Linked DNA regions of Homo sapiens. The protein of the gene in region 4 purifies or fractionates together with the protein of the main gene of each other region. This does not show direct contact. Each region holds a gene or a part of one and is shown on either strand. Other genes may lie near its edges. The genes, in order: PUS7L, DLAT, RPRD1A, STAT5B, KANSL3, RPA3 and PDHA1.

The links.
Region 1: the proteins of STAT5B (region 4) and PUS7L purify together in Homo sapiens (affinity purification with mass spectrometry; one large-scale study listed by BioGRID and IntAct). This does not show direct contact.
Region 2: the proteins of STAT5B (region 4) and DLAT purify together in Homo sapiens (affinity purification with mass spectrometry; one large-scale study listed by BioGRID and IntAct). This does not show direct contact.
Region 3: the proteins of STAT5B (region 4) and RPRD1A fractionate together in Homo sapiens (co-fractionation; one large-scale study listed by BioGRID). This does not show direct contact.
Region 5: the proteins of STAT5B (region 4) and KANSL3 purify together in Homo sapiens (affinity purification with mass spectrometry; one large-scale study listed by BioGRID and IntAct). This does not show direct contact.
Region 6: the proteins of STAT5B (region 4) and RPA3 purify together in Homo sapiens (affinity purification with mass spectrometry; one large-scale study listed by BioGRID and IntAct). This does not show direct contact.
Region 7: the proteins of STAT5B (region 4) and PDHA1 purify together in Homo sapiens (affinity purification with mass spectrometry; one large-scale study listed by BioGRID and IntAct). This does not show direct contact.

What each region holds. Positions count from the first base shown.
Region 1 is NC_000012.12:43,751,953-43,756,205, reverse strand, and holds part of PUS7L (pseudouridylate synthase PUS7L), read left to right. Parts: intron 1-944; coding exon of another isoform or gene 945-960; coding exon 961-1,870; intron 1,871-4,253. UniProt on the Homo sapiens protein: Pseudouridine synthase that catalyzes pseudouridylation of mRNAs.
Region 2 is NC_000011.10:112,031,367-112,035,619, reverse strand, and holds part of DLAT (dihydrolipoyllysine-residue acetyltransferase component of pyruvate dehydrogenase complex, mitochondrial isoform 2 precursor), read right to left. Parts: intron 2,217-4,253; coding exon 2,090-2,216; intron 1-2,089.
Region 3 is NC_000018.10:36,025,504-36,029,756, forward strand, and holds part of RPRD1A (regulation of nuclear pre-mRNA domain-containing protein 1A), read right to left. Parts: intron 1,808-4,253; coding exon 1,681-1,807; intron 1,573-1,680; coding exon 1,397-1,572; intron 176-1,396; coding exon of another isoform or gene 95-175; exon of another isoform or gene 1-94. UniProt on the Homo sapiens protein: Interacts with phosphorylated C-terminal heptapeptide repeat domain (CTD) of the largest RNA polymerase II subunit POLR2A, and participates in dephosphorylation of the CTD by RPAP2.
Region 4 is NC_000017.11:42,266,226-42,270,478, forward strand, and holds part of STAT5B (signal transducer and activator of transcription 5B), read right to left. Parts: exon of another isoform or gene 2,061-4,253; intron 1-2,060. UniProt on the Homo sapiens protein: Carries out a dual function: signal transduction and activation of transcription. Mediates cellular responses to the cytokine KITLG/SCF and other growth factors. Binds to the GAS element and activates PRL-induced transcription.
Region 5 is NC_000002.12:96,628,078-96,632,330, reverse strand, and holds part of KANSL3 (KAT8 regulatory NSL complex subunit 3), read left to right. Parts: intron 1-787; exon of another isoform or gene 788-848; coding exon 849-1,019; intron 1,020-4,253. UniProt on the Homo sapiens protein: Non-catalytic component of the NSL histone acetyltransferase complex, a multiprotein complex that mediates histone H4 acetylation at 'Lys-5'- and 'Lys-8' (H4K5ac and H4K8ac) at transcription start sites and promotes transcription initiation.
Region 6 is NC_000007.14:7,708,033-7,712,285, reverse strand, and holds part of RPA3 (replication protein A 14 kDa subunit), read left to right. Parts: intron 1-4,253. UniProt on the Homo sapiens protein: As part of the heterotrimeric replication protein A complex (RPA/RP-A), binds and stabilizes single-stranded DNA intermediates that form during DNA replication or upon DNA stress.
Region 7 is NC_000023.11:19,350,240-19,354,236, reverse strand, and holds part of PDHA1 (pyruvate dehydrogenase E1 component subunit alpha, somatic form, mitochondrial isoform 1 precursor), read right to left. Parts: intron 2,978-3,997; coding exon of another isoform or gene 2,957-2,977; coding exon 2,830-2,956; intron 1,156-2,829; coding exon 1,064-1,155; intron 1-1,063. UniProt on the Homo sapiens protein: The pyruvate dehydrogenase complex catalyzes the overall conversion of pyruvate to acetyl-CoA and CO(2), and thereby links the glycolytic pathway to the tricarboxylic cycle.

The DNA.
Region 1 (4,253 bases), on a different chromosome or scaffold from region 4:
AGGATATGGAGAATTTGTAGTGATTTCTATATGGCATGATGGAAAGGATTGAGAAGGTGTGATTTGCTAAATTGGTTCAGATTAGTAGAATACATTATAGGTATGAGATGATGGTCCAGATGATGATAAGTTACTTGGAGAATGTGGGGGAAACACAGAACTCACTAGTATGGGGCCCCTGGGCAATTTATCTTTCCTGCAGCTCCATATGGTATGGTAGCCATGGGTTTGTGTGAAAAGTGAGAGATCAGAGTACTATTCTCTTGCATAGTGTTTCCAGGAAGCTCTGTAAGGGTTTCTTCTGTCTGATGCCAATGATATAGTTAGAACTTTCCTCTGGCTCAACCTTGAAAGCTTCTATTTGTCCTAATGGGGGCATTAGAGAAGGCCCAGGACTGACTTAATCCTACCTTGAAATATAATCAAATCACAAATTTGTATTTAGAACTTCATTTACCCATCAGTTTTCCTATTGTCTTTTTGTCACCTCTCCTGTCACTAACCACTAATAATATAAGAAAACTTAGCCACATGTTCTCTGGAATTAGCTGGAAATTTTAGGCTCCAGGAATGGAATTTGGACAAATCTTTGTTTTATAGTCCTGTGTTCTCACCTCTTCTTGTGAGCCTACAAATGATATTTTTAAGATAAAATTGACTCATTTTAATCCTGGATAATAGGTACAAATCTGGAGTGAGTGAAGATACAAGTTAACAAATCTTTAGCTATACCAGAAATAGTTTGCCTATTAATTCAGCTTGGTATAGGAGAGTCAAAGTACACAGGAAGTACATATAGTTATAAATTAAGTTAATGATACCATTTAAGAAGACTCAGAATTAAAAGAGAGACAGAATTAACTAAATCCTGCAAACCTATTCCTATTTGGTCATCCATAACTTCTCTTTCTGTTAACTAACCACCTCTTTGTTTTGTTTTCTAGGCACTGTTATAGAAGAATGGAAGAAGATACAGATTATAGAATCAGGTTTAGTTCTTTGTGTTTCTTTAATGATCACGTTGGATTTCATGGCACTATAAAAAGCTCACCAAGTGACTTTATTGTTATTGAAATTGATGAACAGGGACAGTTAGTTAATAAGACCATCGATGAGCCTATTTTCAAGATTAGTGAAATACAACTTGAGCCAAATAATTTTCCCAAAAAACCAAAACTAGATCTTCAAAATCTGTCCTTAGAAGATGGAAGAAACCAAGAAGTTCATACTTTGATTAAGTACACTGATGGTGACCAAAATCATCAGTCTGGTTCAGAAAAGGAAGATACTATCGTTGATGGAACTTCCAAATGTGAAGAAAAAGCTGATGTTTTAAGCTCCTTTTTGGATGAAAAAACTCATGAGTTACTGAATAATTTTGCCTGTGATGTAAGAGAGAAGTGGCTTTCTAAAACAGAGCTAATTGGACTACCTCCTGAATTCTCAATAGGCAGAATCCTTGACAAAAACCAGAGGGCTAGTTTACACAGTGCCATTAGGCAGAAATTTCCATTTTTAGTAACTGTAGGAAAAAACAGTGAAATTGTTGTAAAACCAAATCTTGAATATAAAGAACTTTGTCATTTGGTATCTGAAGAGGAAGCATTTGACTTTTTTAAATATTTGGATGCAAAGAAAGAAAATTCCAAATTTACCTTTAAACCTGATACAAACAAAGACCACAGAAAAGCTGTCCACCATTTTGTCAACAAAAAGTTTGGAAACCTTGTGGAAACCAAATCTTTTTCTAAAATGAATTGCAGTGCTGGTAATCCGAATGTGGTGGTAACAGTAAGATTTCGGGAAAAAGCACACAAACGTGGGAAAAGGCCTCTTTCTGAATGCCAAGAAGGAAAAGTTATATATACAGGTAATTTAATAAATCATCATCCATTTTCTTGGATAAGCTTAGCTAAATTTAAAATTGTGAAAATGAATTGAACAGACTTGGCTAGAGAGATTGGAAAGAATATATGATTTACCTTTAGGGAGAGGAATTGCTGATAAGCAATTTAAGCAACTCTAGGAATTCTTATTTATTCTGTTACTTACTAGAAGATGATAAAACCTTTTAAATTACACTGAATTTAAAAATTAGCCTTACTGATAACCTAGGCATTTATATTAGCCTATTCACAAATGTATAAAGTTGAAGCAGTTGGTTCGTGTTTAATAAGTTTTATTGAAGGTAAATCTTGATTTCATATTTTGGAAGTCATCTCAATTAAAATTAAGTTTTTAGAGACTAGAAGAATATATTTACTGTGCTTGGGAAAGTGAAGAGATACTCTGTAATCCAAAACAAATTATATTTCCCTACCCAAGGTAGGGAACCTGAAAACTTGGTCCTGCTGGTCTTTAGACAAGATGTTCTGAAACTTTAGCATGCATATAATCATCAAAAGTTCTTGTTAAAACAGATTTCAGAGCTCCATTCTCAGTTTCTGATTCTGGGGCTTTCACAGATTTCCAGGCAGTGTTTTTTCCTGGTCTGCTATGTTTTGAGAATCACTGTTTTAGGGTCTGTGTTTAATTCCCATGGTGGCTGGAACTGATGAACTCTCACTGTAAAAGTCCAGCTGACTAGGTTTAATTGGCCTCAATTCTACTTGAAGGATGGGAACTGTTTCAGATGATCATATTTAATAAATTTATTTAGCAAGATATTTTAAGATAAAACCAGGAACCTAAATTTGCACAGTGACACAGAAATAGGATGGTGCCATGTAGGGACTACAGGTGCAAATGAAAAGAGTTTGGACCTTGGAACTATGTGGGTTTGATTTGATATTATGACTTTTAGTTCACAAAAAGACTTATGAAATTTTTAACATGTTTAAGATTTGATTTCACAAATGTAAAAATGGGAAGAATAATACCTTGGGCAAGTTACTTAATAATTCATAACTTTTGGTTGTACTTGAAAAATAGGGTAATAGGAAAGCCTGACTCACAATGATATTCGAAGGATTAAATGAAATAATGAAATTGTTTACTATGTAATAGTTACTTAATATTAGGCATATAGTAAGTGTTAACAGATATATCCATTTTGAAGGAAAAACAATACTAGCTTTACTTGTAGAAAGAGGAATTGCTGGTGAGTGATTTAAGCAGCTCTAGGAATTCTTATTTATCTTATACTACTTGAAATTCTAACAATATTAATTTGGGTTAATGAGTAAAAAAATTATAGAACTTTATATATTAGTTTAAATTCACTTTTCTAAAGTTGTGAATAGTTGGAGGCATATGTTAAAAGGAGGAATGATGGTTCAAAAAACCTTTTATTTTTAATTTTAAATTACATTAAAATATACATAACATAAAATGTACCATCTTAACCATTTTTAAGTATCAGTGGCATTGAGGACAGTCACATGGTTGTACATCCCTCACCACCATTCATCTCCAGAATTTTTTCACCATCCCAAACTAAAACTCCATATTTATTAAACAATTCTTCCTCCTCTCCAGTTCTGAAAAATGGGAACCACCATTTTTCATTCTGTCTCTATGGATTAGACAACTCTAGGTGTCTCATATAAGTGGAATCATACAGTATTTGTCTTTTTGTAATGGGCTTATTTCACTTAGTATGTTGTCGAGATTCATCTATGTTGTAGCATGTGTTAGAATTTCCTTCCCTTTTAAGGCTGAATAATACCCCATGGTAGGTGTATGCCACATTTTGCTTACCCATTTGTCTGCCAGTGGATGGGATATAATGGTCAGTAAAGCACACGTGATATTTACTTTGTAAGCATTCAGCCTTGGAACTTGGAAAGAATTTGAGGGAGAATGTGGATGTGAGGTGACTTCTGAGGCTAGGTCATAAAAGTATTACACTTCTTGTCATGTTCTTGGATTGCTCACTCTGGGGAAAGCCAGCTGCTATGCTGTGAGGATACTCAAAACAGCCCTTTGGACAGGAACTAGAGCTTCATGCCAACAGCCAGTACCAACCTTCCAGCCACGTAAATGAGCCCCTTTGGGAATGGATCCTCCAGTTTCTTTCAGGCTTTTAAATAACTGCAGCCCATCAGAGTGAACAGGCAACCTACAGAATGGAAGAAAATTTTTGCAATCTACTCATCTGACAAAGGGCTAATATCCAGAATCTACAAAGAACTCAAACAAATTTACAAGAAAAAAACAACCCCATCAAAAAGTGGGCAAAGGATATGAACAGACACTTCTCAAAAGCAGACATTTATGCAGCCAACAGACACATGAAAAAATGCTCATCATCA
Region 2 (4,253 bases), on a different chromosome or scaffold from region 4:
CTACTCAGGAGGCTCAGGCAGGAGAATCGCTTGAACCCAGGAGGCAGAGGTTGTGGTGGGCCGAGATCACGCCACCGCACTCCAGCCTGGACAACAGAGCCAGACTCTGTTTCCAAAAAAAAAAAAAAGAAGTGTTTAAAATGAAAAGGCTCCTGGGCCACAATAGACTTCAAAGTTCAACCAAGGTAACACTTCTCTAGTGACTAGTCTCTATAGTGACACTGGTATTCAAGTTAAATGGTGAAGCAGAACTACTGTTTCCAAAGTTTCTGTGTTTTTAAGAAACAGAATCCTTTCTTCAAATAAAATTTATGGGGAAGCACAAAATACAAAAAGATAGAAAAGAACTGCTCTGCTGGAAGTAAGGCAGGGAGGCAGGGCTGTAAGGTCCTGCTCTTTAATTCCCCCTTTGCCTCAAGGTGCCTTAAAGGAATGATGGGATTTGAAGAACACAATCTGAAAACAACCAAGGCAGAGGATGCCCAGTACCTCCCATTACATCTTTGGGAAAGGCTTCCCTTTGGTGGTGATTATGAAGCAGAGAGGCTGGGTGCGGTGGCTTATGCCTGTAATCCCAGCACTTTGGGAGGCCGAGGCAGGCAGATCACCTGAGGTTAAAGAGCTCGAGACCAGCCTGGCCAACATGGTGAAACTCCATCTCTACTAAAAATGCAAAAAATTAGCCAGGCATGGTGGTGCATGCCTGTAGTCCCAGCTACTCGGGAGGCTGAGGCAGGAGAATTGCTTGAACCCAGGAGGCGGAGGCTGCAGTAAGCCAAGATCGCACCACTGTACTCAAGCCTGGGTGACAGAGCAAAACTCTGTCTCAAAAAAAAAAAAGAAAAAGCGGGGGTGCAGAGAGAAGAAATTCATAATACTACAAATCGCCATGGCTCACGCCTGTAATCCCAGCGCTTTGGGAGGCCAAGACAGGTGGATCACGAGGTCAGGAGATCAAGGCCATCCTGGCTAACACAGTGAAACCCCATCTCTACTAAAAATACAAAAAATTAGCCAGGCGTGGCAGCGGGCACCTGTAGTCCCAGCTACTCGGGAGGCTGAGGCAGGAGAATGGCGTGAACCCAGGAGGTGGAGCTTGCAGTGAGCTGAGACTGCGCCACTGCACTCCAGCCTGGGCAACACAGCGAGACTCCGTCTCAAAAAAAAAAAAAATAATAATAATAAATATATTATTGTCTATATGGGTTTTTTTAGCCTAAAAATGAATTAAGAAGGAGATATGTGGACATATGACATATCTGAACATATATATATTACACACATACATTCTATCAGTCATTCTCAAACTATGAAAACAATCTCAACCCTGGTTTCAGTTTTCCCTCAAAGTCATCTTAAATTCTTTGCTATTATCCTGCCATGGAAGTGATTTTCTCCTGTTTCTTCTTGACTTCCTTTGCCTAGTTTAGACAGCAGCAATTCTGATATAGCTTCTCAGTAACATAATAAGGCCAAGAAGCAAACTTGGGCCTAAAAATAATCTGTGAATTGACAGATTGATTGCCTTTGATTCAGTGAGCACAGGATGGAACTGACAAATCTGACTACGCATTATTTTTGTTATAAATTATGCTGGGCCAGGAACAGGGGCTCACGCTTGGAGTCCCAGCACTTTGAGAGGCCAAGGCAGGAGGATCGCTTGAGCCAGGAGTTCAAAACCAGCCTGGGCAATAAAGTGAGACCCCATCTCTACAAAAAATTTAAAAAATCAGCTAGGTGTGGTGGTTCAGGCCTGTAGTCCTACCTACTTGTGAGGCTAAAGCAGGAGGATCATTTGGGCATAAGCCCAGGAGTTCAAGGCTACAATGAGCTATGATCTTGCCACCGCACTCCAGCCTGGGCAACAGATTAAGACCCTGTCTGAAAAATAAGCAAATAAACAAATAAATAAATAAAAACTAAAGAATACATATAACTAAATAAAAATAAAATATTCTGTCCCAGAAAATGAATCCTAAGAATTATAAAGTTTTCATATTATCACTCACTCATTATAGGAAAGAATGGCAATCCTCTTCCTCATTGGGAAACTCAGTGCCTCAACCATTAAGAGCTGAAGAAATCTCACCTATAGTGGCTTTGTCAGTTTCTATCTCTGCCAGTAAGTCTCCTTCACTTAGCTTCTCACCCACTTTTTTTTCCCATCTCTGAACTGTGCCCATGGTCATGGTGGGAGAGAGGGCAGGAAGAAGTACCTGCAGAAACAAACACATATTATTGCTTAATACCAGGAAGACTTCTACATAATAAAAGTCTGGCAGACTTATGTGGTTTCATAGAATGATGGTGACTATGATAATCCAAATACTCACCACAGCAAAAGCTTCACACCTCAATAGCTTCCCACCAGGTAAATCATCCTTCAAATCTCATACTCTGACCCATACTCTTATACTCTCGCCCACACTCTAACACACACTCCAAGTTAAATGCAACAAGCACATGGGAAAGATTTCTTTCAGACAGTCAAAATTAATTTCTCAACATCTAAGTATGGAGCATCTTTTCATCTATTTTTATTTTTATTTTTATTTTGAGACAGAGTCTTGCTCTGTCCCCCAGGCTGGAGAGCAATGGCGCAATCTCGGCTCACTGCAACCTCCACCTCCTGGTTTCAAGTGATTCTCCTGCCTCAGCCTCCCGAGTAGCTGGATTACAGGCGGGTGCCATCATGCCCACTAATTTTTGTATTTTTGTAGAGATGGGGTTTTACCATGTTGGCCAGGCTGGTCTCTGAACGCCCATCCACAAGTAATCCGCCCGCCCTGGCCTCCCAAAGTGCTGGGATTACAGGCGTGAGCCACCGCGCCCAGACTTCATTTTTTTTTAACCAAGAAGTTTTTCATTTTCACAAAATGACCTTGGTCCAAACCATTCTGTTAAAATTTTACTGCGCTCTGTACTTAGCATCTACCTATTTTTTACCCACAGGAAACTGCATTTGTCCCAACCTTACCAGATATCTTTCCAAGATAAAAACGTAATATTAAGAACTGTTCTGTGCTCGCTTCAGCAACACATATACTAAAATTGGAACGATATAGAGATTAGCATGGCCCCTGCGCAAGGACAACAAATTCGTGAAGCATTCCATATTAAAAAAAAAAACATTATTTGGTGACAATAGTTAATAACAATGTATTGTATTCTTGTAAATTCCTGACAGTAGATTTTTAAGTGGCCTAAAAGATAAGTCTATAAAGTAATGCATATATAAATTAGCTCAATCTAGCCATTCCACAATATATACATATTTCAAAACAACTTGTTGTATATAATATATGTACACAGAATTCTTACACAGAATTTTATTTGATAATTTTTTTTTTTTTTGAGATGGAGTCTTACTCTGTTGCCCAGCCTGGAGTGCAGTGGCATGATGATCATTCAAAAAAATAAAACAGGAGGCCAGGCACAGCTGTTCACATCTGTAATCCCAGCACTTTGGGAGGCCAAGGATCACTTGGGAGGGGCGGATCACTTGAGGCCAGGAGTTCAAGACCAGCCGGGCCATCATGTCGAAACCCCCTCCTCTGCTAAAAATACCAAAATTAGCTGGGCATGGTGACACCCACCTGTAGTCCCAGCTACTCAGGAGGCTGAGGCATGAGAATCGCAGAGGTTGCCGTGAGCCAAGATCGTGCCACTACACTCCAGCCATGGTGACAGAGCAAGACTGTCTCAAAAAAAAAAAAAAAAAAAAAAAAAAAAAACAGGAAAGACCAGCATGGTGGCTCATGCCTATAATCTCAGCATTTTGGTAGGCTGATGCAGGAGGATCACTTGAGCCCAGGAGTTCACGACCAGCCTGAGCAACATGATGTAACCTCATCTCTTAAAAAAAAAAAAAAAAAAAAATTAGCTGGGCATGGTGGCACGTGCCTGTAGTCACAGCGTCTTGGGAGGCTGAGGTGGGAGGATGGCTTGAGCCAGGAGGTCAAGGCTACAGTGAGCTAAGATTGCACCACTGCACTCCAGCCTAGGTGAAGAGTGAGACCCTATCTCAAAAAATAAAATAGCTAGGTGTGGTGGTATGTGCATGTATTCCCAGCTAGTCGGGAGGCTGAGGCAGGAGAATCGCTTGAACCCAGGAGGCAGAGGTTGCAGTGAGCCGAAATCATGCCACTGCACTCCAGCCTAGGTGATGGAGTGAGACCCTGTTTCAAAAAATAAATAAATAAAAATAAAAAACCAGGGGTAAAAAAAGCCCTGTTTTTATAATAGCCATTTCC
Region 3 (4,253 bases), on a different chromosome or scaffold from region 4:
TGACAAATGACCATCATCATAAGTGAGAAAGTATAAAGCAGAATAAAGTTACAGTCTTCTCTTCAATTTTCAAAAACATGAGACAATACAGGCTTCAGGGTTTGATATTTATTTTTAGCAGGAAGAATATACTAATGGTGACGACATCGTTAGAAGATACGCCCATGTCCAATATCTGCAACAGAAGCTCAATAGAAGTTAAAGAAACCATACTAAAAGACTAAAGACAAAAATTGTATGACATTACTTACCCTTAATTCTGTGGACAATAAAACAATTAACACTATGTTTAAAATTGAGGTTTCATCACAAGGTGAAATAGTGGCAAGTTAATTATCAAATTCATCTTTTAAAAAAAAAAACCATCTTTTCCTTTCCATGTAGAAGTGGGCAACCTCTTCAAAGGTATAGTGGCCACCAACTATCATCATCTGAGGGTATTTATACGAGCAGAGAAGGAGTAAATTGCAAAGGAGTAGTGCTAACTTGAGAGCTGGGAATTTGAGGTGGGAATAATTAAGTAGCAGCTCCCATGGGTAGCAATGGCAATCTAATCTAAGCACCATTTTTGGCACAATTAGAGACTGCTGAATCAATAACTAAACACTAATAAAAATAACTTAATGGGGTAGTACCATGACATTCCTACAAATTTACAGTGAGCTTTCTGTAAATAAAGGGATTCAAATTAGAAATTCTCCTACATATTATTACAATAAGAAATTGCCACAGCAATACAATTTAAACAAGAACTCATCAACTGAAAGATTTTTTTTACATAAAACCAAATCTGGCTCATGTATCCCTAACAATTGCTACTCTAATCAAAGGAAATACGAGCATTTTTTAAAATCACCTCCTGTACTCCCAGATTTCTCATTAGCGGTATTAATTATTACTTAATTTACAGGAGCAATGAATTTCTGCCTAAGAGTGTGAGCCGGGAGTGGGGCTGGAACATGTAAGCATTAGAATTGGCGGGTGGAATTAAGGGAGTAATTTAAAGACTTAATGGTATACCTAAAAGACTACATCTTCTCAAAACAGAAACTAAATAAATCCTACTACAAGTGACTGCCACCTGCTATTTTCCTATTATTTCTGTGATACATTAGGGTTAAACTGGTAAGATAAATTATAGTTGCATGGAATTTCACAAGAATAATTTTTAAATGCAATCAATTTTGCTAATTCCAAATTTCTAAGTTTACTTGCAAGATTAATTTGGTTCAAGTAGAAGAAAAACCATTAATACAAGGAGAAGCTTACCTGGGCTACTGCTTAAAAAGGTCTATGTTAAAAAATGCAAAATGTGCACATAGATTAAAATATTTTAAAATTCCTAACAAAAAGAGAATTAAATAAATAAGCACTAAAGAAGAAAAAGGTTACGCACTTCCAATTTATGCTCTTTCTCTGCAAGGGCTTCCTTTTGACAACGAAGAAAATCTGCTAACATTCGAGTGAGTTGCTTTCTATCATCTATTTCTGCCGCCAATCTGCCATTGTAATCTGCCAGCAACATACACGCATCCTCTACCATTTTGGAAAGCCTTTCTCCAGATTCTTTATCTAAGAAAAGCACGGGATAATAAAATATTATACAACAAAAACAATGACATATGCTGTTCTCTCATCCCAACTCCCAAAAAAGTTCTGGATCACATTTTCTTTTCTTACCTGTTATTTTATCTAATAGAGATACTTCTTGGACTTCAACAGGTAAAGAAGCTATCCTCTGATGAACTGCTGCATCACCTGAGGCTGCATTTTCCAGATCTTGTAATGCTCTAACGAGATCTAGAGTCTAAAAAGTACACAACTTCAGAACCAAAATAAATTGAGCTTAAACAAGTGCAAAAGACTTTAATTTCATATTCTTTCATCCCTATGGGCTATTTACTAGTACAAAGCTCCTAATATAAACTGCTTTTGAAGACAATCAATTTCTTTCATATGTTAAGAAAAAAGGAGGCTATACTATGTTAGGTGTTGAAAATATAAACAGGACAAGGCCCTAGACCTTGAAGAGAGCTTACTCCAGTGGTGGAGACAGAGTAATAATAATTATTTGAGTACTAAAATGAGGTAATGAGGATTTATATGGCAAATACATCAGTGGTGAAAGAGAAGGTAGGCTATAACATCAACCTAGAGAATACAAGTTTTATGTATGATATATTCATTACATTATCATTGTACACTAGAAGTTTTTTTAGTATTAAATTGGATATTATGGAAAGAGGGTTACAAATCATCTACTACAACACAGAAGAGTCTCCCAGATTTCATTTCTAAATGCTGTAATTAAAGCCCAAGAGAAATGTAGTTCTAGAATATGTTCAAATATGATATCTTCAAGTATCCTATGGCTTGTTAATAAGATTAAAATATTTCAAAATTCCATAATCTGATGACTAATATATATTGCTTAACCAGTACTGAAATTATTTTATCATTAAAATATTTTACTTCCACTGTTTTCATACAAGCTATAATTAGGAGGGAAGCGCAACTCTTTGCTGGTGATTTCACAACTCATAATGTCTATAAAGTTATTCCAAAGAAAAACAATTAAATTTTATTTTTACTAGTTTCCATTCTCCAGCCCATCTTTTTCATCTTTCTTTCTTAATTTCTAATACTAGATTCAGAAACACTAGGAAATTACACATATGCTTTAAAAAATATAGGATATTAGTAATTCTGTGTATATATTAAGATTTTTAAACTATTCCCTTGAAAAAAAGGGTAGCACATGACAAATGATCAAATGTGGTAGGAATGAATGAAACTAATAAGAAATATACTATCCTACGTGTGCTCACTCATTAGAAGTGTTTAAAATTTCAGTATTTTAAAAAATAATTTTGTTGTAAGATATATCCCCTCTACAATTAAGGTGTGCTTAAGAGTAACAACAATTACCAGAAAGCTTGTTTCTCATCTTGCCACAACTAATATATTATTTTTAAAATCATTCTTAGAAAATTCTAATTGTCTGGAGTTCTAAGAAGAAATCTGGCTTTATTGTCTTGGCAATGCATTGATGCTTTAATTACAACCTGATCTCATCACACCTTCACAGTCCTACATGAGTACATTCTAAGTTCCCAATGCCTGATCAAGCATCAGATAAGAAAGCAAAGTTGTCTGAAACAATACTAAGCCTACTACTTCCTACCAGAGGAGAATGAAATGAGTTTAACGGGAACCTACAAAGAGATTTTAGCCATTCTTATAAAGAATAACACACACACAAAAATGAAGACCACAAAGCTGAACCATTGATAATTAAGCAGCACAACTAATCTAAAAAACGATCATTATAAAACAAAGAGCAACAGCATTTTACACAAGTACTAGAGGAGAGGCAGATGATTACTTAAAAATACTCCTAAGATATGCAACTGTGGTTACCCTTTCATCAGGGAGAGCGGAAGGAGACCAGATCCTTTATCTAGAACTTAGGTAAAACACTGTTCATAGAATCATGAGGCTCTTAGCCAAAAATGATTTTCTGTCATGAGTTATTACCAAATAGGAAGAGACATAAATCTTAGTGTTTGGTTGTTCCAAATGTAACATTCTTATCACTTTTCTATTCAAGCTCTTGTCCATAGTGGCCAATGGGCTTCAGCATTCCTATCACTGAACAAACAGGTAGGCTGACTCAGGTCGTGGCCTTGGTCTGATTCCTTCTGCTTCTCCAGTACTGAGACTAATATAAATCCACAGTTACAGGTAGTAATTGATTGTATTTTTCTTTCACCTTCATGGGGGAAAGAGCTCCTCCCAGCCTCTGATTTTATTCAGTGAATTTGGAACCAGTCCTCTAACTCCCACGGAGCACTGTGAGTTCCTGTTGCCCTTGTGAGTTCCTGTGACCTTAAAGGATACTAATTTCTGGCAACCCCATGTCTGCTTCGGGACCAGGGCTCAGCAGGAGCCAGGTTTTGTCTCACCTATGAAGTTAGGTGTACAATTTCTAACCCATGAAAATACATTCGCCTTGTTTTAAGAGTATGGTTATGTCTTCATTTTCTCATTTTACACTTTATCTGTCCCGCCTACATGTTTGAAACATAGAAGGAGGAAGCTTAAAGACTCAATGCCCACTTAAAAAAAAAAAAAAAAAAAAGTCTTTCTGGAATTAATCTGATGGTTAAGGAATACCATACCATACCAACATGTAGGAGGACACAGAGTGTTAAGATAATAATTCTAACTTATTTTTCCACAGAATTACATAG
Region 4 (4,253 bases):
GGTAATAAAAATTCAAAACTAGCCAGGCTCAGGGGCTCACACCTGCAGTCCCATCTACTCTGGAGGCTGAGGTGGGAGGATCACTTGAGCTCAGGACTTTGAGACCAGCCCGGGCAACATAGTGAGACCCCACTCTTTAAAAAATAATAATAATAAATTAAAATAATAAATAAAATTCAAAACCATAAATTTTGAGAATATCACATTTTTGGACAAAATTTTAAATGTGTGTCTAAAGTAATACGTTTTCTTACTTAAGGACCCACTCCTGGCACACTTCACTCATCCTGGGCAACAGAGCAAGACACTGTCTCAAAAAATAAAAAAAAAAAAAAAAAAATCATTCCCTTAAAATTATATGCTTTTTGGCCCGGTGCAGTGACTCATTCCTGTAATCCCAATACTGTGGAAGGTTGAGGTGGGAGGTGTGGAGGTGGAGGTGGGAGGGATCACCTGGAGACATAGCAAGACCCCTGTCTCTATTTTTTTTTAACTATGTGCATTTTTCTGGTATTGCAAAGTCAAGGGATCTTGCCTCATCACCAACTCAGCATGTGAATTGTAGCCATGCCACTCAGGAAGCCAAATATTTTCTATTTTGTTTTGATACCTTCAACATGAGGAGAAAGGCCAATCTCTTCATACATTACAATGAAATTAGTATTTTTACTTGATATTTAAACTCACTGCAAGATAAACTCATTTGTAAAACATGACTACACTCAGAGTTTCCATATATGTAGTCAGGCACCACATAATGACGTTTCAGTCAATGACAGACCACATATATCACTGTGGTCCCATAAGATAATAAAACGTAGCTGAAAAATTCCTATCCTCTAGTGACGCTGTAGCCATCATAATGTTGTAATGCAATGCATGACTCACATGTTTGTGGCAATGCTGGTGTAAACAAACCCACTGCACTGCCAGTCATGTGAAAGTCTAGCACATACAATTGCGTGCAGTACATACTTGATAATGATAATAAATGCCTATGTTACTGGTTTATGTATTTACCATACTTTTTATCGTTATTTTAGAGTGTACTCCTTCTACTTAAAAAAAAAAGTTAACTGTAAAACAGCCTCAGGCAGGTCCTTCAGGAGGCATTGTTATCACAAGAGATGACAGCTCCATATGTGTTACTGCCCCTGAAGACCTTTCAGTGGAACAAGATGTGGAGGTGCAAGACAGTGATACTGATGACCCTGACCCTGTGTAGGCCTAGACTAATGTGTGTGTTTATGCCTTCACTTTTAAGAAAAAGTTTTTAAAGTTTTGAAAAATTAAAAAGTTTTTAAAGTTTTGAAAAATTAAAAATTATTTAAAAAGAGAAAAAGTAAAAGAATAAAAACATAAAGAAAATATTGTTGCACAGCTGTACATGTTTATGTGTTAAGCTAAGTGTTACTACAAAAGAGTTTAAAAGTGTAAAAAAGTAAACAGTTGGCCGGGCACGGCGGCTCACACCTATAATCCGAGCACTTTGGGAGGTCAAAGTGGGTGGATCACCTGAGGTCAGAAGTTTGAGACCAGCCTGGCCAACATGGTGAAACCCCGTCTCTACTAAAAATACAAAAATTAGCCAGGCGTGGTGGCACACGCCTGTAATCCCAGCTATTCGGGAGGCTGAGGAAGGAGAATTGCTTGAACCGGGAGGTAGAGGTTGCAGTGATCCGAGATCACGCCACTGCACTCCAGCCTGGGCCACAAGAGCAAGACTCCATCTCAAAAAAAAAAAAAAAAAGTAAAAAGTTTACAAAGTAAAAGTATTACAGTAGGCTAAGGTTATTATTGAAGAAAGAAACAATTTTCAAAATACATTTAATGTAGCCTAACCAGACAGTATTTTTAAAATCTACAGTAATGTACAGTAATGTCCTAGGCCTTCACATTCACTCACCATTCACCCACTGAGTTGCCCAGAGCAACTTCCAGTCCTGCAAGCTCCATTCCTGTTAAGTACCCTATATAGATGTACCATTTTTTATCCTTTATGCCATGTTTTTACTGTAACTTTTCTATATTTAGATATGTTTAGATACACAAATACTTACCCTTGTGTTACAATTGTCTACAGTACTCAATACAGTATACATGTTCCACAGGTTTGTAGTCTAGGAGCAATAGGCTTTATCATACAGCCTAGGTGTGCAGTAGGGCTCACCATCTACGTTTGTGTAAGTACCCTCTATGATGGTACCACAATGACAAAATCGCCTAATGCATTTCTTAGAACTTTGTCACCATGTATCATTAAGTGACAAACGACTATAGTTACGTAACAATAACCAAAGAAAAATACAAAAAGAGGGACTATTTACATTGTATCCTTACATATTAAACCTTCCATGCCTTCGGAATAAGAATCTAGTATCCAGTTCTCACTATACATAGCTTTCCCTCACTTTCTATCAGAAATGAGATAGGAGTCCCACCTTCCTGGCATCAGAAACAGATCACCAATCCTGCAAACAAATTCACAGGGTGAACTGTTTCATTTTTAAAGAGCTGTAGATTTCTGTAGATCTCTAATTTGCTACTTTTCCTAAACCTAAAAGATGACCAAAAGATTTTTAGAAACATTAAACAAAAAAACAGAATTAGCATTATTTCTAACAGAACATTTTACCTATTTAAATATACTGTAGAATGAATGCTATATTACAAAGCTGATGAATTCCAATTTTTAGTACTTTAAGAGATCAAGTGTTCAAGTTTCTTTTTATATAGGCTACAATGACATGTATGAATGTAACTTAACATTTAGCCCAGGTTAGATTTTTTAAAATCCCACTCCTTCAAAAACAGTGACTTGCCACCAGCTATAGGCTCTGAATTTATTTAATTTATTTATTTTTTTGAGATGGAGTCTCGCTCCGTCTCCCAGGCTGGAGCACAGTAGTGCGATCTCGGCTCACTGTAACCTCTGCCTCCTGGGTTCAAGTGATTCTTCTGCCTCAGCCTCCTGAGTAGCTGGGATTACAGGCGTGCACCACCACACCTGGCTAATTTTTGTATTTTTAGTAGAGACAGGGTTTCACCATGTTGGCCAGGCTGGTCTCCAACTCCTGACCTCACGTGATCCGCTTGCCTCGGCCTCCCAAATTGTTAGGATTACAGGCGTGAGCCACTGGGCCCGACCTAGGCTCTGAATTTTAGACAACAAAAAATAGTTTCTCACAAACTTTTTAACTTACTCTCACCTAAAGGCTGGAAAACCCCAGTGAAGGCTTTTAAAACTCATCAGACATAGAAAAAAAGAAGCAGCTTTAATTGTAGGATCTCACTGACACAAACATAAGGAAATTCTGAGTTATAGATACCTCACATTAAGCTTTTTCCACTGACATTGTAACTTCTGTCAACATTCAAAGAAAATTCAACCCTGGTCAAAGGTGACAGTTGACAATCCTGGAAGCTAACATCCTCTGTTTATTTGAACAAGTTTATACTCTGCACAGGGAATTGAAGTTCTTCTTGTCTGTGACTTGATCTCCCAAAGTTAAAGCACTACGCTTTAGGGTTGTGAATTCTGTTTCCAAGACTTAACTTCACAATCCACTCCCAAGGAAAAGTGCTGAGAGAAAGTAAGCATCATAAATGAAAAAAAAAAAAAAATCTGAGACTATTTTCTAATGGCCTTTGCAGAGCTCTAGACATACAATAGTTCAGTTGCCTTAAAAATTCGCCCAAATAGGCTGGGCATGGTGGCTTATGCCTGTAATCCCAGCACTTCGGAAGGCCAAGGCAGGAGGATCACCTGAGGTCAGGAGTTCGAGACCAGCCTGGCCAACATGTCAAAACCCCGTCTCTACTAAAAATACAAAAATTAGCTGGGCATGGTGGCACATGCCTGTAGTCCTAGCTACTCCGGAGGCTGGGCAGGAGAATCTCTTGAACCCAGGAGACGGAGGTTGCAGTGAGCCAAGATCGCGCCACTGCATTCCAGCCTGGGTGACAGAGCGAGGCTCTGTCTCAAGAAATAATAATAATAAATTAGCCCAAATAAGTAAAATTCTTAAATCTGTCTCAGAAATCATGACTAATGCTCTAAAAAGCTTTAATGCAACAAGAATAGGACAGAAATCCCCGCAAAATAAAGTTGTAAATAAAATGAGTGGGATTGTTGAGTTCTCAGTACAGACGTGCATGTCAACACAAACCCACTACATTGGCACAAATGATCCCTTTGTTTGTAAACAGAGGCCAAGGAGACAGCTTATAGCTCTTCTTCTATGATGTACACG
Region 5 (4,253 bases), on a different chromosome or scaffold from region 4:
CATGCCTGGCTAATTTTTGTGTTTGTTTTAGAGACGGGGTTTTGCCATATTGCCAAACTGGTCTTGAACTTCTGGGCTTAAACAATCCTCCTTCAGCCTTCCAAAGTACTGGGATTACAAGTATGAATCACTGTGCCTGGCTATATTTGTCATTTATTTATTTATTTTTTGAGACCAGCTCACTCCTGGGCTTAAGTGATCCTCCTGCTTCAGCCTCCCAAGTGCTGGGATTACAGGTGTGAATCACTGTGTCTGGCTGTATTTGTCATTTATTTATTTATTTTTGAGACCAGGTCTTGCTCTGTCACCCAGGCTGGAGTGCAGTGATGCAATCATGGCTCACTGCAGCCTTGACTTCCCGGGTTCCAGCAGTCCTCCCACCTTAGCCTCCTTAGTAGCTGGGATCACAGGTGTGTGCCACATGCCCAGCTAATTTTTGTATTTTTGGTAGAGACAGGGTTTCCTCATGTTGCCCAGGCTGGTCTTGAACTCCTGAGTTCAAGCAATCCACCTGCCTCGGCTTCCCAAAGTGGTGGTATTACAGGTGTGAGCCAGTGCACCTGGCCCATATTTATCTTAAAAAAAAAATAGATGTTTATCATTTTTTATATAGACTCATTGAAAAAATGACTTTGTGTTCTTCCAGTACATACCATCATGTCTGAGAGGGCAGAGATCTAGACAAGTGTGGGAAAGATGACTTTGGATCAAAATTTTCTTGTGAATATAATGTGCTTATGCGTAATTTAAAGCTGACTGTATTAAAGATACATTTTTTGTCAACCAGATGATTGTTAAATACCTGTGAAGTATGTGTGGCCCGGTCCTATTTCCTCACCTGTTTACAGTGAATCAGACGTCCCAATAGATGTGGAGACGGTCACATCAACGCCTATGCCACTCTATGACAATCAGAAGGCACGCAGCGTGATGAATGAGTGTGAACGGCATGTCATCTTTGCCAGGACTGATGCAGATGCCCCTCCTCCACCAGAGGACTGGGAGGAGCATGTCAACAGGTAGGCTGCTCATCAGGAGGATGATCACTGCCCTGTAATTATTTTGTATCATCTTCATTGAAATAACACTTATTAGGACCTTATTTCATTTGCAGCAACACAAGTCAGAGTGTTCTCCAAAGTCTCACATTATAACTCTCAGTTCACCATGCTGTGTGTGAGCTCCTTGAGAGTAGGGCTTACATCTCAGCCATCTTTGCATACTTCACACTAGGACGTTGTCTGGCACACAGTAGGCATATAATGTTTGTTGAATAAATAAGTGAATTAAATTTGATACATATGACTAGCTCTGTAGTAGCTTCTGTTGTATAAGTTATGATATAGGGGTTACCCAAACTGCAAAAAAATGAAATGTACATTTGTAAGATATTGTGTTTAAATGGTTTATAACTAGGATGATGGAAGTTGTGAAGTCACATGAAAAGCTAACAGATGTTTGAGTGGCTTTTAAAAATAGATTTGCAGGCTATGGAGGGCACACTGAAGCCTATTTTCACGAGTATACTGGCTAGTTTTGTTCCCAAGCTTTCTACTGCCCCCAGGGGACTCAGCACTCCTCTCCTGGTTATTTGTCCCTGTTCATTTGGTAAACATTTACCTAATTACATAACAGCTTTTTGGGGATATTATTTACATACCATACAATTCAGCTATTTAATATGTACAGTCATTGGTTTTTAGTATAGTCAGAGTTGTATATTCATCACCACTATCAATTTGATAAACATTTTCATCATCCTAAAAAGAAACCTCTTACCCATAAACAGTTACTTCCCGTTTCCTCCCAGCTTCTCTGGTCCCTAGGAAGCACTAATTGACTTTTGTCTTTATAGATTTGCCTATTCTGGACATTTCATATAAATGGAATCATGCAATATGTGGTCTTTTCCTACTGGCTTCTTTCACCCAGCATGATGTTTTCAAGGTTTATCCATGTGGTTGCGTGTATCAGCACTTCATGCTTTTTATTGCCAAATGACATTACATTGTATGGATAGCCCACATTTTATTTATTCATTAATCAGTTGATAGATATTTAGATTGTTTTCATTTTTTGGCAATTGTGAATAATGCTATTATGAACATTTGCATACAAGTTTTTGTGTGGATCTAAGTTTTTAATTCTCTTAGTTATATACCTGGGAGTGGACTTGTTGGGTCATATGATAACTCTGTATTTAACCTTTGAGGAATTGCCAGACTGTTTTCCAAAGTGGCTGTACCATTTTACATTCCTACCAGCAGTGTATGAGAGTTCTAGTTTCTCCATATCCTTGCCAACACTTACTGATTTTCTTCTTTTTTAAAAAAATTATAACCATTCTACTGCGTGTAAAGTGGCATCTCATTGTGGTTTCAACTTATATTTTGTTGATGGCTTTTTGTCTGTGTATCCATATATCTACTATATATATAAGGAAATGTTACTTCTTATATCAGGAGTTGGTAGGTGGTAACTTTCCATAATTTTGGAGAACCCTTATTTTATAATAGAGAGAAAGAGGGGTAGAAAGTTTGAGGTGATTGACATGACTTCTGAAGCTGGTTGGAAGTTGGGAATGAGATTGAACAGGTGTGCTTGTGTGATCAAAACAGCAGCTGTTGAGGGAGGAGCAGTTCTGCACCTTGGTTGAAAAAGCTTGTGAAGAAGTTGGTTGGGGTCTTGCATTGGAATTAATTTAGTGCCTTAAGAAGCTCTTTTCTCACGCCTGTAATCCCAGTACTTTGGGAGGTTGAGGCGGGTGGATCACCTGAGGTCGGGAGTTCAAGACCAGCCTGACCAACATGGAGAAACTCTGTCTCTGCTAAAAATACAAAATTAGCTGGGTGTGGTGGCGCATGCCTGTAATCCCAGCTACTCGGGAGGCTGAGGCAGGAGAATCACTTGAACCTGGGAGGCGGAGGTTGTGGTGAGCCGAGATCGTGCCATTGCACTCCAGTCTGGGCACCAAGAGTGAAACACCATCTCAAAAAAAGAAAAAAAAGCTCTTTTGAGCTTCAGATAAAGAAGAAAACTGCTACGAATGAAGATCAACTACTGGAATATTGCTAGAGTCAGTATATTCAGCAAAAGGATTTATCACTATTTTTACAGTTAATAATAAAAAATAACGACGATGGTAATAACAAAAAGGAGCTACCGTTTGTTGAGTGCTTTCTAGGTGCCAGACATTGTATCAATGTCTCTTCAAATGCATTGTCTCTTAATCCTCCCAATGACTCTTGGAGGTATATCCCCCCTTCATCTCTGCTCAACAGGATGAAGAAACTGAGCTCAGGGTGTTTAAGAAACCTTAATTAGGAAGTGATGGAGAAGGATTTTGTTCAAACCAAGCAGCCTGACTCCAGAACCCAGTGTTCTCAACTACCATACCCTCTGCCTTAATTAAGGGCAGTAAGAAGAGATTAAGACCAGTTAGTGGTGGCTGAACAAGGTGGCCTGGTATGGTTATGTATCCCTTTGTGGTATTTTCTACTACCTTGTCCTTTGCAATTTCAGAAAGTACATAGGAGAACTGTGTGATTTTTTTTTTTTTTGTCAGTTTATCCATGGTTATGATTAAGAGGTTTTTGTGGACAATTCATACTTATCAAAGTCATTAGAGACTTAATAATACTATAAATACCAGTTTGTTTCTTTTTTCTTTTTTTTGAGACAGGGTCTCACTCTGTCACCCAGACTGCAGTGCAGTGGCACGATCTCAGCTCACTACAAGCCTTGACCTCCAGGACTCAGGTGATTCTCCCGGGTGGGAACCTTAACCTCCCAAGTAGCTGGGACTACAGGAGTACGTCACCATTTCTTAATTTTTGTAGTTTTTGTAGAGATTGGGTTTCACCATGTTGCCTAGGCTGGTCTCAAACTCCTGGCTCAAGTGGTCTGCCCACCTTTGCCTCCCAAAGTGCTAGGATTATAGGTGTGAGCCACTGCACTTGGCTGAGTTTCTTAATTTATAAGGAGAGATATAACTGCAAAGCATAAGAGACACTGGGGTGGCCTGGCCAGAGTGTCTGTTCTCAGCAGGAAAGTCTGGAAAACCATTTTATTTCAGAAGTGAATAGATGAGTGGAGAGTCTACACAGGAGGCACAGCAGAATAGCTGGATGTACACATCTTTCCTCTAGGCAAGATGAGTCCACGGAATAGGCCAGTGTGCACCTTCTCCTGCCTGTCCTTTAGAGAAACACTGACAGATTCTTGTCTTTGGCTTATCTTTCTCCAGTCTCCTT
Region 6 (4,253 bases), on a different chromosome or scaffold from region 4:
GTTCAATAAAATTTCAACAAAAATCACATCAGAGTGGGTAGGTTTGAGTGATTATCCATCTGTTATTCATTTTTTATTTATTTGGCATAAGATCAACTGATGCTTCATTATATAGAAAAGCAGAGAACAAAGGAAGGTTGAGATGGTTTTAAAGGATGGTAATATAATGAGCTTTATGACATTGGCTAAGAGAGAGAAAAATAGCCTCATAAAGTAGGAGAACCAAAGATACTATATATGTAAGAGTAAGCTTGGAAGATACGTGAAGAAAAGAAGATGAATTAATCCAAAATAGTACTAAGAAAATAGGTTATCCCTACAAAAAAAAATTAAAATCGGATCGCTATACCACACTATAACCAAAGTTAACCATAGAGCTATAAGAAGATGCTATAGGAAGATGACTTTCTGATCTCCAAGAAGGGACTTTTTAAATCAGACTGAAATATGAAAGTTAAGGAAAAGTTTTATATATTTTAAAACTGTCACATCAAAATGTCTCTTCATTAACAGATAAAAAGAAAAACATAAGTCATTAAAATGCAACAAAATTTGTAACTAGATCCCCTTAGAATCAACTTTTTAAATGACAGACAATACAGCAGGGAAAAGAGATCAATAGTGATTTTACTGAGCAAAAAAACCACATATGACTATTAAACATAAATAAAAATGTCCAATTCCATTATAAACAAGAAAATGTAAATTAAAAACACAAGATACCATTTTCTAACCAACAGACTGATAAAAATTTAAGTCTCACAGTATTACATGTTAAAAAGGATAGAGTATAATATCCTTGAAGTACAATATCCTTAAAAAGGATAGAGTATAATATGAAAAGGATAGAATTTTCATATACCACTTGGGAAAAAAATTTGCCATGATTTACTAAAGTTAACATGTGCATAGCCTGTAATTCCTCCCGGAAATAAAATCTAGAGGAAAGCTCACATATGTGCACCAGGAGACATGTACAAGGATGTTTGTAACAGCATCATGTTGTCTTTTAATTGAACTTTTTCAGATAATTCTAGATTCACAGGCAGATTGGAGAAATTATATGGAAATATCCCATGTAGCTTCTACCTGGTTTACCACAATGGCAACATCTTGCAAAACTATAGTTCAATACCACAACCAGGATATTTCATTCACACAGACCAGATACAGAACATCTCCATAACCACCAGAATCCCCAGTGTTATCCTTCTATAGCCACACACACTTGCCTCTAACTTTCACCCCATCCTTACCCACCGGCGACCAATGATTTCTCTATTTTTTGTGTACAGTTTGGTCATTTCAAGAATGCTACATAAATGAAGTCATACAGTACGTTACCTTTAGGGATTGGCTCTTTTCACTCAGCATAATTCTCTGGAGATTCATCCAGGTTGTTGTATATATCAACAGTTTGTTACTTCTTCTTGCTGAGTATTATTCCATGATATAGATATACCATAGATTTAACCATTCACCTGTTGAAGGATATTTGGTGTGTATCCAGTTTGGGTCTATTATGAATAAAATTGCTATAAATACTCAGTTTTATGCACATATACGTCTTCAATTTCTCTGGGATAAATGCCCAAAGTGTAATTGCTGAGTCGTATAGTAACTGCATATTCAGCTTTTCAGAAACTGTCTATTTTCCAGAGTAATTGTACCATTTTACATTCCTATCATCAATAAGTGATCCAGATTCTCTTCATCCTTACCAGCATTTGGTGTTATTACTATTTATTTTAGCTATTCTGATACAGGTTTGTAGAGACCTATCATTATGGTTTTAATTTGCATTATGGCTAATGACACTTATTCATGTGCTTATTTGCCATATGTATATCCTCTTCAGTGAAATGTCTCTTCATGTCTTTTGCCCATTTTCTAATTTGGTTTTATGTTTTTTTGTTTTTTGTTTTTTACTGCTGAGTTTTGCAAGTACTTATTCTAGGGACTAGTCCTTTCATTTTGGGCAATTTTTGCATAAAGTGTGAGACACAGATCAAGGTGTTTTGTTTTTTCTTCTGCCTACTAATGTTCAGTAACAGCACTGTTTTTAGGAAAACAAAACAAAACCCCAAATGTTCATCATCAGAACAGATATATAAATTGTGGTATATTCATCAATGGAATGTCAAATAAAAATGAAAGAACTAAAGATACATAGAGCAATATAGATGAGACCAGATACATGATACTGAGTGAGAGAGGCAAATTGCTGAAGAACATATTGTACATACATTGTGAGTGACTCGATTTATATATGGTTGTAAAACATACAAAACTACACATATGAAAAATATGTTAACACTATTTAAAAAGAGACCCCAAAAAAGCAGAATTTAAAGAGTGGAATTTACCTCTGAGGTGGGAGTAAGGAGAAGACTTAGAGAACTTCAAGGTTAACAAGAAATTATATTTCTTAAACCAATTGGTGGGTACACAGGTGTTCATCACATTGTCATTCTGAATATGTTCTCATTATTTAAAAAAAAAAACTTTAAAAGGTTATTTTTCAAATTGAGATTTGCATAAGCAAGAGCTAAGAATAATAGCTGGTAAGATGTCACTTTAAAGATCTTACCCTCAGCAGGTAAAAAAACAGTTATTATAAATTGTAATACAGGAACATACCAAACAGACCCTTGTTAGGGAAAGATGACTTCTGAGCAAACAGGTGACTTCTGACAAACCATTCTTATCCCACAAGCCTCATTTTGCCCTTGCAGGCTCAGCGCCTGACTTTTCTTTCAACTTCAAGTCCCCCAGTCATTCACCTTCTCTCCACACAGTTCCTTCTGCTTTGTTTTACAGCATTCTGCCCTCCTCGGGTGGCAATGCTTTAAGTCAACACCAACATCTGACCTCTCCAGCTTATCCACAGGACTTATCTTCTTAAGAGATGGTGTGAGGACAAAGGGTGAGCCTTCCTGACTTGAATTAATGACGACCCACAATTGAACAAGTTTCTAATGTTCATATTTACAAAGAATATAGTCTAGAATCTCAGTTAAATCCATATTAAAAGTAACCCCATGCATAACATTATTCACACATATAATTGAGATAAATCTCAGCACACAGATAGGAAAACAAAGACAGTCAATTTCAAACAACTAATAAAATTATTTAACCATTACAAAATCCCTTAACCATGCCGAATTTTGCAAAATATCTAAGAAATTATTATGCAAGACACTGAAAGATGTGTTATTAAGTAGTTAATTGGTATTTTTAATAGTTAGGACTGTTTTCCTCTTCTGTCTTCTCCTCCTCTCCTCTTTTCCTCCCACACTTTCTCCCTTCCTCTCCCTTTCTCTCTCTCTCCCTCTCTCTCTCTCACACACACACAGACACACAAACACAAACACACACCCCTTGCTGGTTAAAAACTTCTTAAAAACATACAACTGCCTGTATTTGTATATATACATATGCATTTGGTGTCTTGTTATAACTTCCCTTTAAACCACATATTAATGGGCAAAAAAAGTCCTAACATTCTATCTGTTGAAAAGCTGGGTCTGTCTCCAATAAACATAGTTGCTCGTTTCAGTCAAATCAGCTTATTTACTAATTATAAAATATAATTTTAAGATGGCCAAAACGAAGTAGTAGGAAAAGTATATTACTACTTTAATGGAATTTGCTTCTATTTTTGAGGTCTGTCCCAAAAGGACAAATATGTTGACTTATTTTTAAAGGTTTCCTTTCAATGTTTCAAGTTATAAAGCACTGCTGCTTTTGTAAAAGATCCTATTAATTTCTTAACAGAGTGTTAGACCTGATCCCCTTATATCCAAAATGGTAAATGCTGTCTAATAAATACATGGGTGATTGAATAAGGGTCACTGACACTTGGGTAACTGTTTAATACAGAAACAATTTATAATATATATCTCTCTACAAAACTAAAGCTGAGCAATCAATAATTTTGTCTTCCTTCGTCTACAAGTAGCTTATTCAACATTAACTAGTAAACCAAGGGTGAAAGGGAGGGTTGTAAATCACGAAGAAAAGATTCATTTTATTCTTAATTCCCACTTGAATCTATGTAAAATGTTAAGTTACAGACAGTTAAGGAGAAGCTGTTGTGTTTGAATATGTAATTGCTATTTAGATGATAATGGCGTGGATGTCGCAGCAGAACCATGATCCAAATTTGAATAAGGTCTTAATGAAGGAGGCTAAGAGAAGAATGACGACTGAAATACAACAGTGTCAGCAACAGACCTTAATGAAGCAAA
Region 7 (3,997 bases), on a different chromosome or scaffold from region 4:
AAACCTGGCCGGGCGTGGTGGCTCACGCCTGTAATCCCAGCACTTTGGGCAGATCACGAGGTCCACAGATCGAGACCATCCTGGACAAGATGGTGAAACCCCGTCTCTACTAAAAATACAAAAAATGGTTGGGCATGGTGGCACGTAACTATATTCCCAGCTACTCGGGAGGCTGAGGCAGGAGAATTGCTTGAACCCGGGGGTGGAGGTTGCAGTGAGCTGAGATTACACCACTGCTCCAGCCTGGGCGGCTGAGCAAGACTCCATTTCAAAAGGAAAAATAAAACCTAGGTTTAAAAAAAAACAACACATAATAGAATCTTAATATATTAGAAAGGAAAAGAAACAGTCCGGATATAATTTTGTGCTGTTAATTCTTCATCATTCACTAACTGATGAGAACAAGGACCCCAAAATGAAGTTGACAAGATAAAGCAATTAATGTACTGAAATATAAATAGGAAGGGGAAGGTATGGCTCCACTGCTAGAGGTTCCTGCTTACTTATAAAACAGCAGACACCTAAAAGGAAACATTATAAATCACCATCCAAATCTACTCATCTCTCAAACGGTAGGATATGAAGCACTAGGTCTTTAAAAGCAAACCAAGCCCCCAAAATAGTCACGCGTCACTTAACAACAGGGATATATTCTCAGAATTGCATCACTAGGCGATTTTGTCATGTGAACACCATACTGTAATGCACGAACCTAGATGGTACAGCCCACTGCACACCTAGGCTGTATAGTAGAGCCTACTGCTCCTAGGCTACAACCCTGCACAGCATGTGACTCTACTGAATCCTGTAGGCAAAATATTTGTGTACCTAAACGTAGAAAAGGTAATGTGTTGTGCCACTACAACATCACTAGGCGACAGGAATTTTTCAGCTCCATTATAATCTTATGGGTCCAACATCATATATGCGACATTGACCAAAGCGTCACTGTGCAGCACATGGCTGTACTACTTCAGGAAAAGTTGTCTGGGGCTGTGAAAGTTTTTGAAGACAAAGTCCAGGGCCAAATCTAAAGCAGCACACAATCCTCGTCCTTGACTACCTGCGCTCCCACGATGCCATTGCCCCCGTAGAAGTTCTTGGCATACATGTGCATCGATCCTCCTTTCCCTTTAGCACAACCTCCTTTTCGTCCTGGAAATGGCAGAACATACACATGTGCAGAACAAACCAACTCTACAAAGCAAACCAAACCGCACCCCAAATATGTACTCTGAGGCTCAACCATTAGAACACAGAGGCCAGTTCAGTCGTCTAAGTACCTGTCCCTCCAGGCAAACACATGTTTCTCCTTGTCCTTTCACTAGTTCCATGTGCTTCAACCTTTCCAGCTTTTCCTACTCTCTAGTCACTTAGTTTCCTTCAGATGTTCCATCCAGATGATACCCTGGACTTTTCTGGGTTTTCTGGCCAGTTACAAACATCTTAGGACCTCTCCTATACTAGTACACTAAATATATTCAATCCTTGAACAGGGTTTGAACTGCACAGGTACACTTATACACAGATTTTTTTTCAGCCACACATGTATTGAAAATAGAATATTCTCAGGATGCAAACCCGAAGATATGGAAGGCTGACTTTGGGACTTGAGTATTTGAGGATTTTTGTATACTCGAGGGTCCTAGAACCAATCCCCTGGATATATAGAGGGACAACCATAGTTCAAGAGTCAAGGAGGGCCGGGCACGGCGGCTCACGCCTGTAATCCTAACATTTTGGGAGGCCGAAGAGGGTGGATCACCTGAGGTCAAGAGTTCAAGACCAGCCTGGCCAACATGGTGAAACCTGGTCTCTACTAAAAATACAGAAATTAGCCAGGTGTGGTGGTTGGGCACCTATAATCCTAGCTACTCAGGAGGCTGAGGCAGGAGAATTGCTTGAACCCGGGGGGCGGAGGCTGCAGTGAGCCAAAATCATACCACTTCACTCCAGCCACTCCAGCCTGGGTGAAAGAGTGAAACTCTGTCTCAAAAAAAAAAAAAAAAAAGGAGGAGGAGGAGGACCGGGCACAGTGGCTCACGCCTGTAATCCTAGCATTTTGGGAGGCTGAGGCAGGCCACTGCACTCCAGCCTGGGCAACAAAGCGAGACTCTGTCTCAAAAAAACAAAACAGGCCAGGTGCGGTGGCTCACGCCTGTAACCCCAGCACACTTTGGGAGGCCAAGGCAGGTGGATCACCTGAGGTCAGGAGTTGGAGACCAGCCTGGCCAACATGTTGAAACCCCATCTCTACTAAAAATACAAAAATTAGCCAGGTGTGGTGGTGCATGCCTGTAGTCCCAGCTACTCAGGAGGTGGAGGCATGAGAATCACTTGAACCCGGGAGGTGGAGGTTGCAGTGAGCCGTGATCACACCACTGCACACCAGCCTGGACAACGGAGTGAGACACAGTCTCAAAAAAAAAAAAAAAAAAAAACCACCAAAACAAACAAATAGTCACGGGGGACAAAGAAAAGGGGAATATTAAGAAGATTTCTAGAATTTACATTGCATACCATGGAGTGCTTCAACCGAACTTACTTTCTATGACTGCTAGACTTCTTCTGGCATGCTTGAATGATAACCAAACCTACTGTGATTTTATAGCACCAACCTGTTTTAAACTTTTACCTGAGGGGCCAGAGAACTTCACAAATGGTCAGTTAACTCAAGAGCACAACAGAAGTACCAGAGCACCAAAGGAGAGAGGGTTAAAAAAAGAAACTTAAAATTTTTAACAAATATTAACTCATAATAGCATCTTAATGACAGATATTTAAAAACTTAATCCACTCATTTCCCCTTTCTGTAAATCAACAGCAAACCTGTAAGCTCTGCGAGAATTTCTCGGACGGAAAGGCCCCGGGTGAAAGTAAAGCCGTGAGCCCGGTAGGCTGTGATGAGATGGTCTGTGGGGTTGATGCCGGCCTCCAGGCCCACACAGCAAGCTTCCTGTGTTAGAGGAAGGAGAAACTATGAGGCAATATGATACATGTTTCTAAATAAAAACGTTTCCTAGACCACAGTGAAATATGTGGGCTAGTAGAACCTGTCATTAATAACCAGAGAAAGTAGCTATTTTCCACCAAAATACAGAGTGGAAGGCCCAAACCAGAAGCAATAAACTGGCAACCCACACATGTGCCACTTCCTTCCTTTCTCCTGTATGATGACCTAAAAGAAAAGCCTACATCAGATGTCAACATTAAAACACTGGGGAATTTCACATGAAAATCCAGACTTCCGCCTTCTCTTAGACATGGAAAACAGGAAACATTACCCCTGATTTCCACATGGCACCAACTGGCTGGAACCAAGTCATGGCATTCCTCTGGGTAGGGCATGCTGGTGCCAGTTCAGCATGAGTCCCTGTCACCATTTTCTGTTTTGTATACCTAGCCTTCTTCACTCATTTATTCTACCTGGCTGGCCCTTGTAGGTATTTGACTCTAACCCTTGACCTAAGCCCACAAAACAAAAAACAAACTAATCCTTTCTCTCCAAATTATATACAGTACAGGCGATCATAGTGCCAGAAAGTTTTAAAATAGTAAAACTCTAAGAACAGGTACAGAAAACTGGCAATGTTATGTGTGAATGAATTCTTTAGCCTAAGCTTCATAGCAGGTTTTGGCATTCTACTTTTTAATTCTAAAATACTGGCTTCAGCCAGGCACAGTGGCTCACGCCTGTAATCCTAGCACCTTGGGAGGCCAAGGTGGGCGGACCACTTGAGCCCAGAAGTTTGAGACTAGCCTGGGCAACATAGTGAAACCCCGTATCTCCAAAAAATACAAAAATTAGCTGGGTGTGTTGGTGTGCACCTGTGGTCCCACATACTCGGGAGGCTGAGGTGGGAGGATTGCTTGAGCCCAGTGGACAGAGGCTGCAGTGAGCCAAGATCACACTGTACTCTAACCAGAGGCTGCAGTGAGCCAAGATCACCACTGTACTCTAACCTGGGCGACAGAGAGAGACTGTCTCAAAAAAATA